2 separate regions of the Homo sapiens genome follow, and region 1 is linked to region 2. Evidence: fine-mapped expression QTL. A gene starts in region 2. The other region holds a variant in brackets. All regions are shown on one strand. Distances are from middle to middle. Region 1 overlaps DNHD1 (dynein heavy chain domain 1). Region 2 holds the start of TIMM10B (translocase of inner mitochondrial membrane 10B).

Evidence for each region. PIP is the estimated chance that this variant, and not a neighbour inherited with it, causes the effect.
Region 1: its variant is fine-mapped to the expression of TIMM10B in esophagus muscle (GTEx, PIP 0.95).

What each region holds. Positions count from the first base shown.
Region 1 is chr11:6,506,892-6,509,808 of GRCh38, reverse strand. DNHD1 (dynein heavy chain domain 1) reads right to left here. Exons shown (of 43, transcript NM_144666.3): 5 at 726-929; 6 at 537-647. Among named protein-coding and RNA genes, the nearest start is that of DNHD1, 11 kb to the right of the region's middle. The variant C/T (reference allele first, on the strand shown) is at 1,397.
Region 2 is chr11:6,480,112-6,483,028 of GRCh38, reverse strand. It overlaps TIMM10B (translocase of inner mitochondrial membrane 10B), which reads right to left and starts at 1,528. Exons shown (of 3, transcript NM_012192.4): 1 at 1,474-1,528; 2 at 1,177-1,272; 3 at 1-984. The coding sequence starts at 1,512. The coding sequence ends at 808. ARFIP2 (ARF interacting protein 2) reads left to right here and starts at 1,698. Exons shown (of 8, transcript NM_001376558.2): 1 at 1,698-1,798; 2 at 2,566-2,706. The coding sequence starts at 2,608. RefSeq lists enhancers at 1,420-1,469, 1,950-2,069, 906-2,105.

The DNA of each region.
Region 1 (2,917 bases), 27 kb before region 2:
CTCCTGTCACAGAATATACCTAAGAGTAGCTGAGGAGTCATGTAGGGAAAGCAAGGAAATACTGAAAATAGGAATAACCAACCTTTTCCAAAAAAAAGAAAAATAGAATCCAAGTAATATCTTGGAAAGAACACAGAGTTTGGATTCAAACAACTGAATTAGACCCCCAGATCTGACATTACACATAATTACGTGAGTGCAAGTGGTTTAAGATATATAATTACCTGGAGAATATTGCATATATTCTCCATAGAGAATATATTCTATTCATGAAATAGAATATAATCTAGTTCAGAATATATGTTCAAAGAAAAAACTGGTTATTTAACAGTATGTAAGGTATGATCACATTTTGTGTATGTGATAGAAAAAAGACTAGAAAGATATGCAACAAAATGTTCATAGTGGTTGGTAGGATTAAAGGTTTTTTCTTAGTGCTTTTTTGTATCTTTCAGATTTTCTACAACAAACATACTATTACCTTTAGTAAAACTAATTTTTAAAAACTCAATGAAGTTGTGTTTTTAATACCTCACCTGCTAATATGGAGTAGCCCAGCTCCAAAGTGGGGCACAGCCAAGAGCAGATGATTCTCTAGGAATTTCTGGAGTCGATGCAGCCCCTGTAATCTCACATTCTTCTTCCAACTAGAAATTAGAGGTCAGTGATAATATACTGTTGCTGTCATCCATTTCCCCCCAAATCACATATCCGTCATTACCTACCAGGTAAAGGACTTGCGTAAGAGGCAATACTTAAAGAATGGAATGAACTGGAGCTGCTGCCAGAGAACACAGTGATGGTGCCAGGTACCCAGTGTCATCGTCTCGCTACCTTCCACAGGATGTACATGCAAGATCCCAAAGGGAGAGAAGATGTAGTGCTCGGGATTCACCTTGTCGGGTGGCACCACCATCAGGCTGTAAGGCCTTTAAAAAAAGAGCTCTGATCAGTGAAGGCCCTGGGAACGTGGTCAGACTTTAAGAGACCAAAGGAGGATACAGGAGATGAAAAAGGGGAACAGGAAGGCAGGCAGAAGAAAGGAGAAAAAGGGGCAAAGAGAGCAGAATGATTTTTAAACTAGAAAGATGAAACAAATATTATTAAGAAGAAACCGAAGCCAAAGGTAGATGGGAAGAAAGAAAAAGGCACCTAGCCAGCTCCAAGAAGTTCATATCTTCAAATGCAGATATCTTACATCCCATCAGATCTAAGACACTGTCCACCGTAAGCTGCAGCATTATCTTATGAAATGCTAAGATAAAAATGCTTCTAATAAGATATTCCATCAATTTGTAAGATGCATCACAATTTTAGAGATGATGAAATGTGAAAAATCCTCATTCTAGACATGATAAAATACACATATACTTGGGTACTGAAAGACATGCAGAGA[C/T]AATCAGAATGTTATTTGATGGAAAAACTGAGATTGGAGAAAAGCAGAGGAAGACTAGAAAATTCGAAACAGGCAAATAAAGAGGAAAATTGCAACCTAATGTACTAGACAAGTACCTTCAGAGCCATCTTAAAATCTTAGTTGGTCTTGGGTTCTCTTACTTCAGCAAAATGCACCTATATCCCACATTAAATGCAATATATATAGATTGATATAATAGGTGTATCTAGTTACAGTAGGCCAGTTAGCATAATGCTATGTTTAGATACATTTAATAAAGCATTTATTAATTTTTATTTTTCAGTTTTCTTTATATAACTCAGAGCTAGCAATATTTTTAAGCATTACATATATTTTTAGCAATTTAAAAGCTGTATCCTAAGTCCTATAATGTCTAAGAGATAAAATAGCTCTCCTCTATCTCTCATCTCTCTCAACTTTCTAGAAAACATTGTTAAGCAAGTGACTTAAGAACTTTTAGATAGATACCAGAATGGACACACTAAGTCAAGTCATACAAAAACCTTGTTTTGTTTTTGACAAAGTTACTAAAGTTTCTTAAGTATAGTACTCATATCCCCAAATTACAGATAGGAAAACTGAAACAAAGAGAAGTTAAAGCTTTGCCCAAGACAGTTAAGGGAAGAATACAGGATTTAAAACCAAAGTTACCTGACTCATGCCCCCTCCTTTAATCAGTGGGCCATTTAGCTTCCCACAGTGTAGCTGCCTATGTTAACTGAGCCCTGGCTCTTCCCAAGAGATATTTCCTTTTCCTATGACCTACTTAATGGAGGCTGCTGTTTCTGTGTAGGGCCAGGAGTTATACAGTACTCTTCTCATTCCCAATGGCCACTACTCCTTTGGAGTATAAAATATACTCCAAATATATATGTAATGCTTAAAAATATTGCTAGCTCTGAGTTATATAAAGAAAACTGAAAAATAAAAATAAATGCTTTATTAAATGTATCTAAACATAGCATTATGCTAACTGGCCTACTGTAACTAGATACACCTATTATATCAATCCATATGTATTGCATTTAATGTGGGATATAGGTGCATTTTGCTGAATATCCTTTGGAGGATATTCACTCATTCTACAAATGCTTATTAAGGCAAGCAGTGTGTAAGCCACTGAGGATACAGCAGTGTTCAAGAAAAATCCAGTCCCTGACTTTATGGAACTTAGTTAAACCGTTTATCAAGTTGTCCCTCTGTTCAAGTATTGTGGTCAGAGATGGGGACATAAAGATGACTTCTACATAGTCCTTGTCCTCAAAGGGCTCAGAATCAACTGGAGTATGACATGATACTAGAGAGTAGATGGGGGAAATCAGTATCTTCCTGAGTCCCAGAACCAAAGATTCAGCTGTTTCCAAAACATCTCAAACTCCATCTTGCTTGCACCTGAAACTCAGCAAGTTCTGTACTAAACTCAATATCTACCCCCACCAAATCTGTCCCTAATCTGGGCAATTAGTTCACTCATTCATTCAACGAATATTACTGAGTATC
Region 2 (2,917 bases):
AGACTGTACATACTAAGAAAGTAACAACCTGGGGAAATGGCTGAAGTTCCAAAAGACTCCAGACTTCTTACAGGTTTCATCTCTCTTCTGTGGCCACTAACTTCCCAAGGAGGCAGTGCCCAAAAGCCCTGTGGTTTTTTGATCCGTTGTACTTCGATAGCTCCTCCTTTCCCTAGATCCAGCAGAACTCTAGACATGTAAGACATAGTTCACAAAACAACAGTTATGAACCAACAAATACTTGGCTCACGGTTATGAGCCACTGAAGTCAGTCAGACTTAAGGACAACTAGACAGAGCTCCCATTTTCTGTCATCTGGGCAGGAACCAATCTCCTGTTGTATAAAATGACCTTCTGGTACTTTCTGGAATCTTGCTTCCTCATCTGTTAAGTGAGGCTAATACCGCTTACTCATAGTTTTGTTGTGAAGATGAACTAAGAGCATGACATATTACCCGTTTTAAAATTGTACACACAGACCCTGCTTTAACCAGATGCCTGCAAATGCTCAGGTTTTCCTTCTACATATAGAAAACAATTTCTCAGCTGCCAGGGCTGAAGCCAGCAGATATGCACTAAACGACAGAACAACGGATTGTGCCAATAAAGTAGGCAAAGCTTCCTTGCCCAGAATATAAATCAAACTGAGTAAAAACTGGGTATATTGGCTCCAGGAAAAGGAGCAAGGACACCCAGCTTTCAGGCAACCTCGAATTCTCTCTGTTTAGGATTCACCAACCCCAAGGTCCACCGGGTCCTTCAATCTGAGGGTCCATCCAAGGCCTTCCTTCCTGGGGTTGGGTATGGCTAGCTGCCTGATGGAGAGACCCCAGGCTGTTCAGCAGCAACGCCTGGCACAGCCGAGGCAGCCTCGTAGTCTGCGATGCGGCGCTGTACCAGGGCAGGCATGAGCTGCACGTAAGCGGCCATGAGGCGGTGGTTGGAATGGATCAGCTTCCCAGCACAGCTGTGCAGACAGGCCTCCTAGAAGGAAGATAGGGTTTAAGTGGAGGATAAAGGTGCCCTGTCGGGTCCGCCTCCTTTCTTCCCCATGCCCAGCCTAGGGGTGAGGGTCGTGGGAAGGCCAGGGCCAGAGGTACGGGAAGTGGGGTGAGGAGGGAAGCAGTCTACCGCTAAACTCTTCTTGCAGCGTAACCTCCCTACACAGTTCCCCACCTCCTCAGCGTCCAGAGCTCGGTGGTGCAAGCTGGGCACACAGCGCTGGAAGCAGAGTTCTGTCATCCGATTGTAGACCAACAGGAAGTCACGCAGCTGAGAGAAAAGGGGGACCACAAACTCAGCGATAAGGGCCCCACACTTCTAGTCAAGGTCGCGCCGCCCAAAGTTTCCCAGGCCCGCGCGCCATAGCCCGAAGTTTCCAGCCCTCAAATCCCTGGCCCTGTGGGGTTCCCGCGATGTGTGCAGGAATGCGAGCTGAACGTCTGGCCTCGAAACGACTTAGTTCTCACTTACGTTTCGCAGTTGCTGTTGCTGCTGCTGCTGCCGCTCCATCACGCCACCGGCGCATGCCGTACGCCACTTCCGTTTCAGCTTCTCGGTGCCGCCCCGGAAGTAACCTCTCGCTGATCTCGAGAGCTAGCTCGAGTATCGCCCTGCCCTGGCTGCGACGTCAGCTCCGCCCTTATAATCTGCGACGTGGCCGGCTTCTTCTGCCCGGAGAGGACGTCATTTCCGCCGAGTCCCTGACCTGCTGCTAGGATCGCGACGGGAACTGGAGCCCGAGGTCCCCGCGCGGCCCGGGCCTGGCGCCCTGAGGGGAAGAGCGGCCCGGCCCGAGGTGAGAGGAACATGCTTGGGCGACGGGAAGTTGAACGCACAAACCTGTCCAGAGGGCAAGATGCCCCGAGCCCCGGGGAAGGATGAGGACACACCTGATGTCCAGGTGTATGGGGGTGGGGGCGGGGACTCACACACCTGGGAGACATAACTGACTGTGGAAGGGTCACCGATATCCTGGGAGAGAGAGGCTTTTACCAGAGACTGGGAACATACACCCACTGATCTAACTAAGGCCTGGTGGGGAGGGCCCGAGGAAGACGAGGTGTATGAGACGGAGGAGGGGAGACCCCCTGAAGGAAGGGGGAAGAAACGCTAAAGGAATGTGAAAGGCCAAGCAATGGAGAACAAACCTGAATAGGGGGGTGAAGACCTGAGCCCTGGAAAGGGTTCATCTCCTCAGCATAAACACGCCTGCATGGAGATAAGTTCTAAGAGAGCAGACTTTCCCTCTTCACTGTTGTATTTTCATTGTCACAAATAGTGCCTGACACATAGTAGGCACTCACTAAATGTCTGCTGAATGAGTGTAGAAATAATCACCAGAGTCCTGGTGAGGTTGGGGGCTTGTGAGAAGACACCGTGCTTTGGTGTGCCTGTTTCAAATGTGCGTTTTGGAGGGGAGAAATACATATATCTGAAGAAAGGAATGATGGCCAAACGCTGGGACACTCAAACCCTGGGACAGCCTTTAAAGAAATGACAGAGGAGGCCTCCTTCTTCTAGAGTGCTGGCCAGTGTCCAGAACTTCTGTGTTGGGCTTTGCAGGGTGCTGGGGTGGAGAGTTTTACTCCAATACCTTTCCTAGCCATGACGGACGGGATCCTAGGGAAGGCAGCCACAATGGAGATCCCTATCCACGGGAACGGCGAAGCCAGGCAGCTTCCTGAAGATGATGGGCTGGAGCAGGTGCTTCTGTTTGATTCTTCTAATTGTTTCAATTTAGGAATCCAATTTATAAATCCTAGGTTCTCACCCTCCATTCCAGTAGCCTTCCCCTGACTTATCTGACTCCCTTCATTCTTTTTACGTATCATTTTGATTCTGTGCAGACTTCCCTTGTGTACTATCTTTATGATGCTTGAATCCAAACTTGTTCCCACCTCCAAAATGCTTCTGC